Linked DNA regions of Homo sapiens: region 2 is linked to region 1. The links come from fine-mapping of genetic effects on plasma protein levels. Region 1 holds a variant in brackets. A gene starts in the other region. All regions are shown on their forward strands.

The links. PIP is the posterior inclusion probability: the model's chance that the variant is causal. Protein levels are from antibody-based Olink assays in UK Biobank. Linkage for the fine-mapping came from a reference panel and not from the study's own genotypes, which makes the PIPs less certain.
Region 2: TOP1 starts here. The variant in region 1 is fine-mapped to the plasma level of the TOP1 protein (UK Biobank, PIP above 0.99).

Annotation. Positions count from the first base shown.
Region 1 is chr1:205,842,483-205,847,852 of GRCh38, forward strand. PM20D1 (peptidase M20 domain containing 1) reads right to left here. Exons shown (of 13, transcript NM_152491.5): 3 at 2,843-3,075; 4 at 2,329-2,415; 5 at 1,605-1,735; 6 at 1,185-1,304; 7 at 194-269. Among named protein-coding and RNA genes, the nearest start is that of PM20D1, 5.0 kb to the right of the region's middle. The variant G/A (reference allele first, on the strand shown) is at 2,875.
Region 2 is chr20:41,026,530-41,031,899 of GRCh38, forward strand. It overlaps TOP1 (DNA topoisomerase I), which reads left to right and starts at 2,293. Exons shown (of 21, transcript NM_003286.4): 1 at 2,293-2,571; 2 at 2,902-2,926. The coding sequence starts at 2,539. RefSeq lists silencers at 1,992-2,343, 2,564-2,633.

The DNA.
Region 1 (5,370 bases):
GGTCTCAGAAACACACTAACAGCCGTAGAGAACAAGCCAGATCCCTGTGTCTTGGCTCAGCCACTGGCTGGGAATAGGTGAGAATAGGCAGAGTGCTGGACAGTACTAGGGTCCTTTTCTTACTCTAAAGGTTACTTTTCTGTCCGTCTTTTGTTCCTAGCTGATTAGGAGTATGTGATACTTCTTCCCATACCTCATTTGCCAGTTGCTGCAATACAGTCACCACTGTCCCGCTTCCAAATATGATAGGCATTGGTGTCTGCTCCAATCTGGAAGAGAAACAGAGTCCTCAAGACTTAGCGAACCCCAGCCAAAGATCAGTGGCTTGAAGAGGAGAAGAAGGGAGATAGGAGGAAGTTTCAACGCTCCTGGCCAAGAGGTCTCTCATTCACCTCCCTCCCACCTCCACCAACTCAACATTCTGAAGATCTCAAAACATCCCCAGGAGCTTTCCCTGTCTACCAAGTCTGCATTAGGGTCCTTCTTTCCTCCCTCTGCTGTTCTCTAGAATCCTGTGTGTCCACTCTCATAGCCCATCCCATACTACAGCAGAATTGTCAGTCTCCTGACAATTTGAATGAATATAGCACTCCTTCCCACTTTGCTAAGAAAACCCAGCCAGGAGTAAGCTCTGCTGTTACAGATTCTGCTGTCCTCATTCATAGCCAGCAACTCTTATTTATTTTTGTCCTCCTGCCAGGACAGGTGGAGAATTTCGACAGCTCTACCAGTCATTGCCAATTTGTGATTCTAAATGTCTGGACTCTGGACTACTCTAGCTGCCTGACCTAGCTTCTGCCTGTAGGTCCTTGCTTTCCATATGGATATACTGACAGATCCTCTTCTGACTCCAGCCCTTGCAGGATACTGGTGGCTCTGTCTCTCCTGTGGCTCCCCCAACCCCCACCTTGGAAGGAATTCTCACTCCATTTGAGATGACCCCAGCCTGGTATCTGTGAGCCATGCTGAGATAACTCTTTATTTACACCTGTTGTATTAATCACCTGGATCTTTAGTCTGTCCTGGGCTTCCCCTTCTGTTCTTCCTCTAGTGTCAATTTTTTATAGCATAGTTTCCCAGCCCAACTTTAGGGCAGGAAGCTTAGCCTCCTCAAATTTAAAGTGGGAAAGTGCCAGGGCTTCCATCTCAAGTCTGGCATGGGAACAGGGCCAGGAGTTGCTTACCGGCTGACAGCAGCTGCAAGGATGCCAATGCTTGTCTCCTTTGGAGGAGCTGAAGAGTGGCCTGAAGTCATGTTTACTTGCAGCATGAGGTTCATGGAACCCTTCTCTGAGACTGCAATCCTGTAGAAGAGGATCGGAAACCACTCTCCTGACTTCTTGCCTCTCTGAATTCTCCCATAGGCCCATAGGTCCATCTGTGCAATAGTCTAGTGGGCAAGGAGGTAGCTTCATGCTGCTTTAAAAATTTTATACTGGAGGAAGAATGGAAGGGGAAGCCTAGGAGAGGTTAAAGATTGGGGCGATTAATGCGAGAGGTGTACACAAAGAGTTGTCTCAGCATGGCTCACAGATACCAGGCTGGGGTCATCTCAAATGGGGTGAGAATTCCCTCCAAGGTGTGGGGTGGGATGCTTTACTCACAAGGCGATGGGCTTCTTGAAGTTAGGAATGAAATCATCCAAGATGAAGCCCCCCTCGTCCACAATGAAGGCTAGCTGGACGCCCCTTGACTGTAGCAGGGCTGAGATCCTCTGAGCCCCTGTCCCTGATGACTGCAGACATGGAACATAGAGCTATAGTCCTTCTCAGCCAGAGACAGACCTCCAGACATAGCTAATGGGGACCTATTCAGCCTAGCTAGGGGCTCCAGAACCTTTCTACCTAGTCTCCTTCCTGGGAGCCAGGGCCCTAGAGAATCCTGCCTTACAGAATTCTGGAATGTCAGAGCTGGCAGGCCTCACCCTCCCTTATTTCACAAATGAAGAAACTGGAGCCAAAAGAGTGAAGTGACTTGCCCAGGGTCTAAGTAAGTAGCATCATTGGAAATAAAACGCAGTCATCACTCTCCCTTTTCAGTTCTTTTTCCATCACACGTATGTTTCTTAGGGTATAGGTGATGGACCCACTGCCTGCCTCAGATATTATGAAGGAGTTTGTTAAAAATTCAGATCTAGGGCACAGGGCCCAGGAATCTGAATTTTGGTCAAGGTCCTTAGATAGTCCTGGCATACAGACACACGGAGAAGTTGGCAAACTACCGTATCATGGAGACCTTGCTGCTGTGGGCAAACTGGACTAGGGTTAAGCACCCACTCCCCTACCCTCAACAGAGGACAGAGATAGGTATAAGGTGAGGAGGCTCTACCTCCTCATCATGGCCCAGAGAAATGAAGAAAGATCTTCGGGGGATGTACTTCCTGATCAGCAGGAGCTCCAAGGCCTGCAGTAATGCCTGGGGTTCAGAAGCACAATGGAAGAGGAAAAAGACGTTATTTAGGTGGGAATACCAGGGTATCAGAGACATTCAGTTGCCTGTTATCAGGGCTGGTGGGATGAGGATGTGATAGATTCTCTTGAAAGAGAACAGATTCAAATGGTACAGGGGACCTGATGCGGAGAAACAGAACGTTTACCACCTGGAGAAGAGCATAAACATATCAGTGTCAGGACTGAAAGGGTCCCTGGGGACCATTCAATCCCATTTACAGCTGAGAAATCAAGGCCCAGAGAAGGGAAGTGACAAACTGATGGCTGGAACCCAGGTCTCCTGGAGCCAAGATTCTTTTTACCATTATCTCCCACCTCCCAGGGTCAGCCAAGCACCCCCATCCTGATTGATCTTTAGGGCCCCAAGGCAGAGGGAACATTGCATCTCAGACCATCACAGAGTTCTTGTCGTCCAGTGTGCCCC[G/A]ACCATAGATGATGCCATCACGCTCCAACCCAGAGAATGGGGGCACCTCCCAGCCTTCTTCAGGGGCAGGCACCACATCAAAGTGAGCCATCAGCAGGTAGGGCTGCAAGCTGGGGTCCGAGCCTTGGATAGTGAACAGGTGGCTATACTCTTCCACGACTTCATGCTGGATAAAGCTGGTGCTGACCACTGTAGGAAAGACTAGAAGCAAAAAGGGCAGGAAGAGAGAACCAGGGTTAACAGTTTCCTTAGGTTTTCCTACCAAGTTGTGCTTCCTGTTCCTTTATTTATTTATTTTTTTAAACATGCATCCTCCTTTAGGAAGCCTTCTAGGACAAAGCTAGTCTGATTCCTGATCTACCTGGACAATCTTTGAAATTCGTCTTCCCCATATTTCAATGTGCTATTACTATGTAATAAATGCAAATCAAGAGCCACCATTAAGGCCAGGCTTGGGGGCTCATGCCTGTAATCCCAGCACTTTGGGAGGCCGAGGCAGGTGGATCACCTGAGGTCAGGAGTTCCAGACCGGCCTGGCCAACATGGCGAAACCCTGTCTCTACTAAAAATACAAAAATCAGTGAGGTGTGGTGGCTCATGCCTGTAATCCCTGCTACTCAGGAGGCTGAGACAGGAGAATCGCTTGAACCTGGGAGGCAGAGTTTGCAGTGAGCTGAGGTTCCGCCATTGCACTCCAGCGTGGGTGACAAGAGCAAAACTCCATCTCAAAAAAAAAAAAAAAAGACTCGGCCAGGCGTGGTGGCTCATGCCTGTAACCCAGCACTTTGGGAGGCTGAGGCGGGCAGATCACTTGAGGTCAGGTGTTCGAAACCAGCCTGGCCCACATGGTGAAACCCCGTCTCTACTAAAAATACAAAAAACAGCTGGGCGTGGTGGCACGTACTTGTAATCCCAGCAACTTGGAAGGCTGAGGCAGGAGAACTGCTTGAACTCAGGAGGTGGAGGTTGCAGTGAGCCGAGATCACACCACTGCACTCCAGCCTGGCTGACACAGCAAGACTCCAACTCAAAAAAAAAAGACTCACTATTAAGATGGTCAATATCTCAAGCTCAGGCTTGGTCAGACCTATAACATGCTATCACAAGTACGTGTTAAAGGGCTATGCAGATGAGGGATGCATTAAATTTTGACCATAGGAGGCCGCATTAACCAAATTATATTAAATTATTATATTAAATTAGTAGGCCTCATTAACCAAATTATATTTAAATATTATATTAAAAAGTTCAGAGACATTTTTCTTTTTAAAAAGCCACACATCTAGTGTATGTGTTATGTGAACATAAAGATTATTCTGTTTAGCACAAGGTCGTACTTCTGCGTGCAGGTGTAGATGTTCCTAGGGTCAATTATTCAAGCGACCTTAGCTACATAGGAGAAATAAATTTTATCTCTCTCTGGGTTTTTTGGAAGAATTCACATAAACTTCTGTGGATACCCGAAAACCGAAGAAGACTATGGTTTTATCTTGTCACCTAGCTTATCCAGTTTACTGTCACTATACATTTCCTTTCCTATGTTTGTCTCCTATTTAGTAAAGACTTGCAGCCTTTTCAGCCTGGCCTCAGCTTGGCTACTGGGCATTAATCCCTGAGCCACTCATTTTTGTTTTTTCCTTCCTTCCTTTCTTTTTTTTTTTTTTTTTTTTTTTTTTTCAGAGACAAGGTCTTGCTCTCTCACTTACACTCGAGCACAGTGGCACATTCATAGCTTACTGCAGCCTTGAATTCCTGGAATCCAGCAACCCTCCCACCTCAGCCTCCTGTAACTAGGACTACAGGTGCTCGCCACCATGCATGGCTAATCCCAGAGCCATTTGTCCCAGGGTGTTAGAGAGGGGGCTGCTTGCTGCTCCTAGGCCACCTTCTCCCACCTCTGACAACTTTGGAGGGGTTGTTTTTAATTAGATTTAGGAAGGTAATCTCATCACTCTCCATGAGATTTTCATAAGGGGAGGGAGGAGTTCCAAGAATCCTTTTTTCCTCTGACCCATCCTTCCTCAGCTCTGTACTCAATGGGTGGTAGGGATGAGGGAAAAAGACTGATGTTATAGCTCAAAGTTGTTGACTGCCTAGAGGCCTAGAAATGTGTTAGTAATGAATCTGGGGTAGGCCTGAGTACGTGGAGTGTATATGTACCGGTGTGTTTGGGTGTGTAAGGAGGTAGGGGTGGGAGGAGCATGGAACATAGTTCTGGGCAGTTGCACAAGTAGAAGGAAATCCTAGTTCTACTTTTTGATGATTTAACATTTATTGAATGACACACATGTAGGGCAAAATTTGAGAGAGTTTGTACTCTAATGCAATGGCTGGATGAACTCTCAATCTTTGCCCTACATATGGTGGCTTAGTTTTTCCAAGAGCAAATCTACAGTCTCTACTCTGCCTATGGGAATTAGATTGTCCTCTGATCAGTCGCAAAATAAACTTCTTTATCACTTTGTAAAAGAACTGTGTCTCCATTGCTATTTCTAC
Region 2 (5,370 bases), not on the chromosome of region 1:
CCCTCTCACAGACCTTGCTTGCTATAGGGGAAATAGACAGGAAACCAATTACTACATTTGTAACTTAATAACAAGTGTCATAAGTGTTACAAAGGAGATAGATACTATAAGGCACCTTTTATTTTTATTTGTTTATTTATTTTTTGAGACTCACTCGCTCTGTTGCCCAGGCTGGGGTACAGTGGTGCGGTCTCGGCTCACTGCAACCTCTGCCTCCCAGGTTCAAGCGATTCTCCTGCCTCAGCCTCCCGAGTAGCTGGGATTACAGGTGTGAACCACCACACTCTGCTAATTTTTGTATTTTTAGTAGAGACAGGGTTTCACCATGTTGGCCAGGCTGTTGTTGAACTCCTGACCTCAAGTGATTGATCCACATTGACCTCCCAAAGTGCTGTGATTACAGGCGTTAGCCACCGCGCCTGGCCTATAAGGCACCCTTGGTCAGCCAGTGGAAGCAGGGTCAGTAGTGCGCCGGAGAGTCACTTTGAAAAAGTGATATTTAGGTTGATCTTGAAGCATTCACAAGATGTGGTAAACACATCTAATGGTAAACATGTGATGGTAAACATTAGATGTGATAAAGATACTGATGGTCCACTGGATGAACAGTTTTCATATTTACTTCCAAATGATTTCATAGATATTATTTCACAGATAACACTTAGGATGAAGGTAAATAAAAAGGAGATCAATTAAAATATGAAATAATAATAGTGAAAGTGGTAATAGATGTGGCAATATCCACAAAGGAGTAATGGTTAGATTAGCATATTGAGAAGATCACTTTGGCAATTGTTGGAATGCAGTTTACGAGAGGGCCAAGAATGGAAGCAGCAATCCCTGTTAGAAGTGTAGTGTTTTGGAGTGCGGTGTTTTTTGTTGGTTTGTTTTTTGTTTTTTTTAAACCAGGTCTCACTCTGTTGCCCAGGCTGGAGTGCAGTGCAGCCTCGACCTCCTCCTCGGGCTCAGGTGATCCTCCCACCTCAGCCTCCCGAGTAGCCGGGACTACAGGCACATGCCACCACACCCCGCCAGTTTTTGTATTTTTTTGTAGAGTCAGGGTTCTGCCATGTTGCCCAGGCTGGTCTTGAACTCCTGGGTTCAAGTGATCTGCCAGCCTCGGCCTCCCAAAGTGCTAAGATTACAAGTGTGAGACACCACCCCCAGCCAGCACATTGTATTAATCCAAGCAGGAGAACGCAGACTTCAAAGGCTTATGGGCAGCAGAGAGAAGTAGATGAAGCAAAGAGATGCAATCAGCGGGACTAGTGGGAAATGAGGGAAAGGAAGGTGTCAGGATGGGGCTTTTTCTAGCTGAGTGGAGTTCAGTTCATTCCCAGAGAAGCTTGAGAGGTATCCAACTATAGATGCAAGGTAGCTGGCTGTTGGTCCCTTGTCTTTAGGACAGTTTGACTTTTGTAATACAGGCGACCTCACAGAGCTATTGTGAGAATTCAGAGCTGGGCACAGAATAGATGCTCTATAAACGGTAGTTCTATTCCCCATTTGCCCCGTCCTCCCAGCATGCCAGGGATACAGGGGCGGATAGAGACAGGTTCAGTTCCCTTTGGTCTCTTGCATTCCCCCTTCCCTCAGCACAATTCCTGGGCTCATAGCGGATGCTCAATAAGTATTTGTAGAATGAACCAAAGAAATCAGACCCTTGGTGACCCAGGGCTACATGTACTCGGCGGAAAACTGGGGTTAAACCGGACCCTTGGTTGGTTGAAAAATTAAAATAATTTTTAAAAAGTGGGCGTGAAATAATCCAGAAGTTGGAGGGCCTGGACAAAGGCTGGGGAGGGGACTCCTCCCACCAGGCGGCCTCAGGGTCGGCTTAGCAAGAAAGGAGGCGCTGGGGAGACCTCTGGGGTCCCAGCTGCCAAGGTACTCGCCGCTCCAAGGAGATGCGGACGCCGGATACCAGCTCTGCCCAAGATTGCTGGGTCCCGCCGCGGCCTTTAAAGGCCCACCACGTGGCTGCGCGGCCAGCCCTGGTCCGGAGGCGGTGCCCGGGTGGCGCCTGCGCACTGCCTAGCAGAGGGGCTGGGGTTCCGAGAAAAAGCGTCTGGAGAGGAAGGGGAGGCTGCTTGGGGTGGGACGCCGTGGGAGGAGTCGGCTCCTTATGCAAATCACAGCGGAGCGCGCACGGTCCGGAGGCGGGGCTTGCGATGCAAAGACAGGTCCGTCTGGCGAACAGCGAGGGGGCGGGCCGCAACCCTCTGCCTCTTTCCGCGAGCGCTGACGTCGCCGACGTGTTGTTTAAAAGCGGCCGCGCAGGCGCAGTGAGCCCAAATGCGAACTTAGGCTGTTACACAACTGCTGGGGTCTGTTCTCGCCGCCCGCCCGGCAGTCAGGCAGCGTCGCCGCCGTGGTAGCAGCCTCAGCCGTTTCTGGAGTCTCGGGCCCACAGTCACCGCCGCTTACCTGCGCCTCCTCGAGCCTCCGGAGTCCCCGTCCGCCCGCACAGGCCGGTTCGCCGTCTGCGTCTCCCCCACGCCGCCTCGCCTGCCGCCGCGCTCGTCCCTCCGGGCCGACATGAGTGGGGACCACCTCCACAACGATTCCCAGGTACGGCCCGGCCTGACCCTGGCGGCCCCGGACCCCGGCCTGGCCGTCCCGCGACCCCCGGCGCAGGCCCCGACCCCAGCCCCGGCCCGGCAGCTTTGACAGGCCGGAGCCCCCGGTGAGGGGCCGCCTGCCGGAGTAGATCGGCTCGCTAGGCCGCGAGCGAGGGCCGCGAAGTTACAGTTCGAGGCAGGGATGGCTGCCCTCTGTGGCCACCCCCGGGTCCCCGTCCTCCCCGGGGGCGCAGGGTGAGCCAGACCCCGGCCGCGCGCGCTCGCCGCCGGAGGGGTTAAAGTGGCTGTTGTTTGATATTCTCTCCTTTTCTTTTTCCAGATCGAAGCGGATTTCCGATTGAATGGTGAGTGTGCCCCCTGCGCCGACTCCGGGGCCCCCCAGCCGCCGGCCGCCTCCCCCGCGCCCTGCCGGTGCCGGGCAGAGGACAGACATGGCGTCCCAGAGACTAAGTCCCGGCTCCTCGCTCACCGGCCCCATTGTTCCCATCGGGCCGCCTCTTGACCCCCTTTCCGGGGACCCCAGCTCCTCCAGATCCCGGCCCTCCCAAGAGGGGACAACGGAGACCCCGTGTCGTCCGCCACCGGGCCTCGGGCGGTCTTTCCGGGCCGGGATTCCTCCCGGGAAAGTCGCCTTGTCGACGGTCGGGACTTAGTCTCTGCGCCATTTTCTTTTTCTCTCTCCTCTCCTTTCTGTGCCTGTGTCTCTTTCTCTCCCTCCCTCGGCTCTTTCCTTGAGCTGCCCAGAATGAGCTTTCTGCAGAGCAAAGCCGTATAAATCACATACTTCACCAGAGAGGGAAGGCTGGGGGACTGAATTATTATTTTTTAAACTTTATTTTGGGGGTTATTCCCTTTATGCTTCATGTTTGTTTCCTTTTCTGCTTCCAGAATGAAAGATTTCCTTAAGCAACTGTTAATTTTTTTTTTGATAGGCTGTTTATGATAGGAATTATGGCTCTAAAACTAAAGCCACGCTTTGTGGAGTTCTTTATATTTCCAGGTTGTTTTTCCCAAGTTACGTTCTTTGCAAAGGTAGCAGTACCTCCCTAAAGAAAGTTTGCAAGTTCTCTGTGGGTCACCCAATGTAAATGTTGGATTTTTAAAAAATTATGTTAGTCACTGGAACTTTTCATTGTGGTCGAGGTTCCCAATGCAGTGTTTTTCTGGAAACGCAGTTTAGTGTACTTGTTGGAAGGAAAGATTGTTGAGCATCTCTTGTGGACCTGGTGTGTTGGCCTTTTCGTTTGGGTTGTAAGGAGGAAAAAAAGATTTTATTTATTGAAGCAAAGAGTGTCCAGTACCCACCCCTGCTTCCTGTTCATTCTTTTTCACGAGCCACTGTTTTTCAGGAATCAAGAACTGGCTTTTTTTTTTTTTCCCAATTCTTTATGTTTTTGAACCCTTTTCAGCCAAATCAAGGCATTTATTCTTACTGTATTTCCACTTCAGTTACCCAGGGAAGAGTCCTCCAATAAAAAGCTCATCCTTGCAGGCTTTCGAACAACCCTGTTGAAGGAGAAGTTACCTTCTGTAGTGTGCTGGGAATTCCCACTGATTTTGATGGTACATAATCCTGCTCAATTGAGTTTGGGTTCCGGGAACCTCTCCAATGGGAGAAGTTGATGAGTAGGTTTTCTAATGTTGTAATCAGCAGTCCATCATGTTAGCCTGCTCTACTGAGAGCAACCTTATGTTCAGAGTTTGAAGTGGGGCATCCAGCAGGAGATGGTACTCAGCCAGGAGAGAATCTGGTTTAAAGTATGGCATTTCTTGAGCACCAGATATGTGCCAACCACTGTGCTTGGTGCTAGAGCTGATCCTGTAACCATAACACTCCCTTGCTCTCAATTCAGTCTATTGGGGGAGACATAATTAGTTAATTATAAGGTAACTACTGGGGCATATGTGTACCCAAAATGCTTTGAAGTATAGGGGAGTTAATTTTGTCTGAGGGTGGGGAAATTTCTCAGAGGAGGTGACTTCTGAGCTGGGGGTTGTGGAAGACTGGGCGCAGAGAATTGTCAGGGGTTGGAGTGTTTCTTAAGTACGTTTAACCAACCTATCACGATTTTAAAAGAGGGAGGAGGTGAGGCCTGCAGTTTAGAAAGCCACAGTATAGACATGTTTCTTTGGGATACAGGAGCAAAGAAAGGATGTGCAGGTGAGGATGTAAGAAGTCCTTTTGACCTTGCTAGAGGAAGGTGGGATCTTTAATATGGAATGTGTTCTTTTGGCTGTCAGGCTGGGCTGAGTAGGTAATGTAAGTAATGAAACAAAGTTTAGCCCTTTCTTGTGAGAAAGTTAACTTACATGGTTCTCACCTAAGTCACGTGAATGATTGTGAGCTGGCTAGGTTATTGATCTTTACTGACATTTTTATAGAGGCTGAAGTAATCTGCGTATGTTGACTTTTAGAATGTGTTGGCTCACATTTAATAGCAATAATAGCTAATATTTATTGAATACTTACTGCCAGGCATGAATCTCAGCTCTTTCCATGGATCATCTAATTAAATGTAATCCTTGGAAGGACCCTTGTGAGTTAGGTCCTGTTATTTCTGTTTTGTAGATGAGGAAACTGAGGCTTCAGTGTATTTACTAGCTTGCCCAAGGGCTGTGAGTTGGCCACTCTAAATCCCATGAGCTGAGCCACTATGCTAGAGTGATACTATATGATACTAGCATGAAAAAATAAAAAGCCACAAATCTCTATTTTCTTACAGAGCTGAAAAAGGAGAGAAGGAAGGATTTGATAATTTGTCATTTGCTTTTTATCTAAACATGCTTT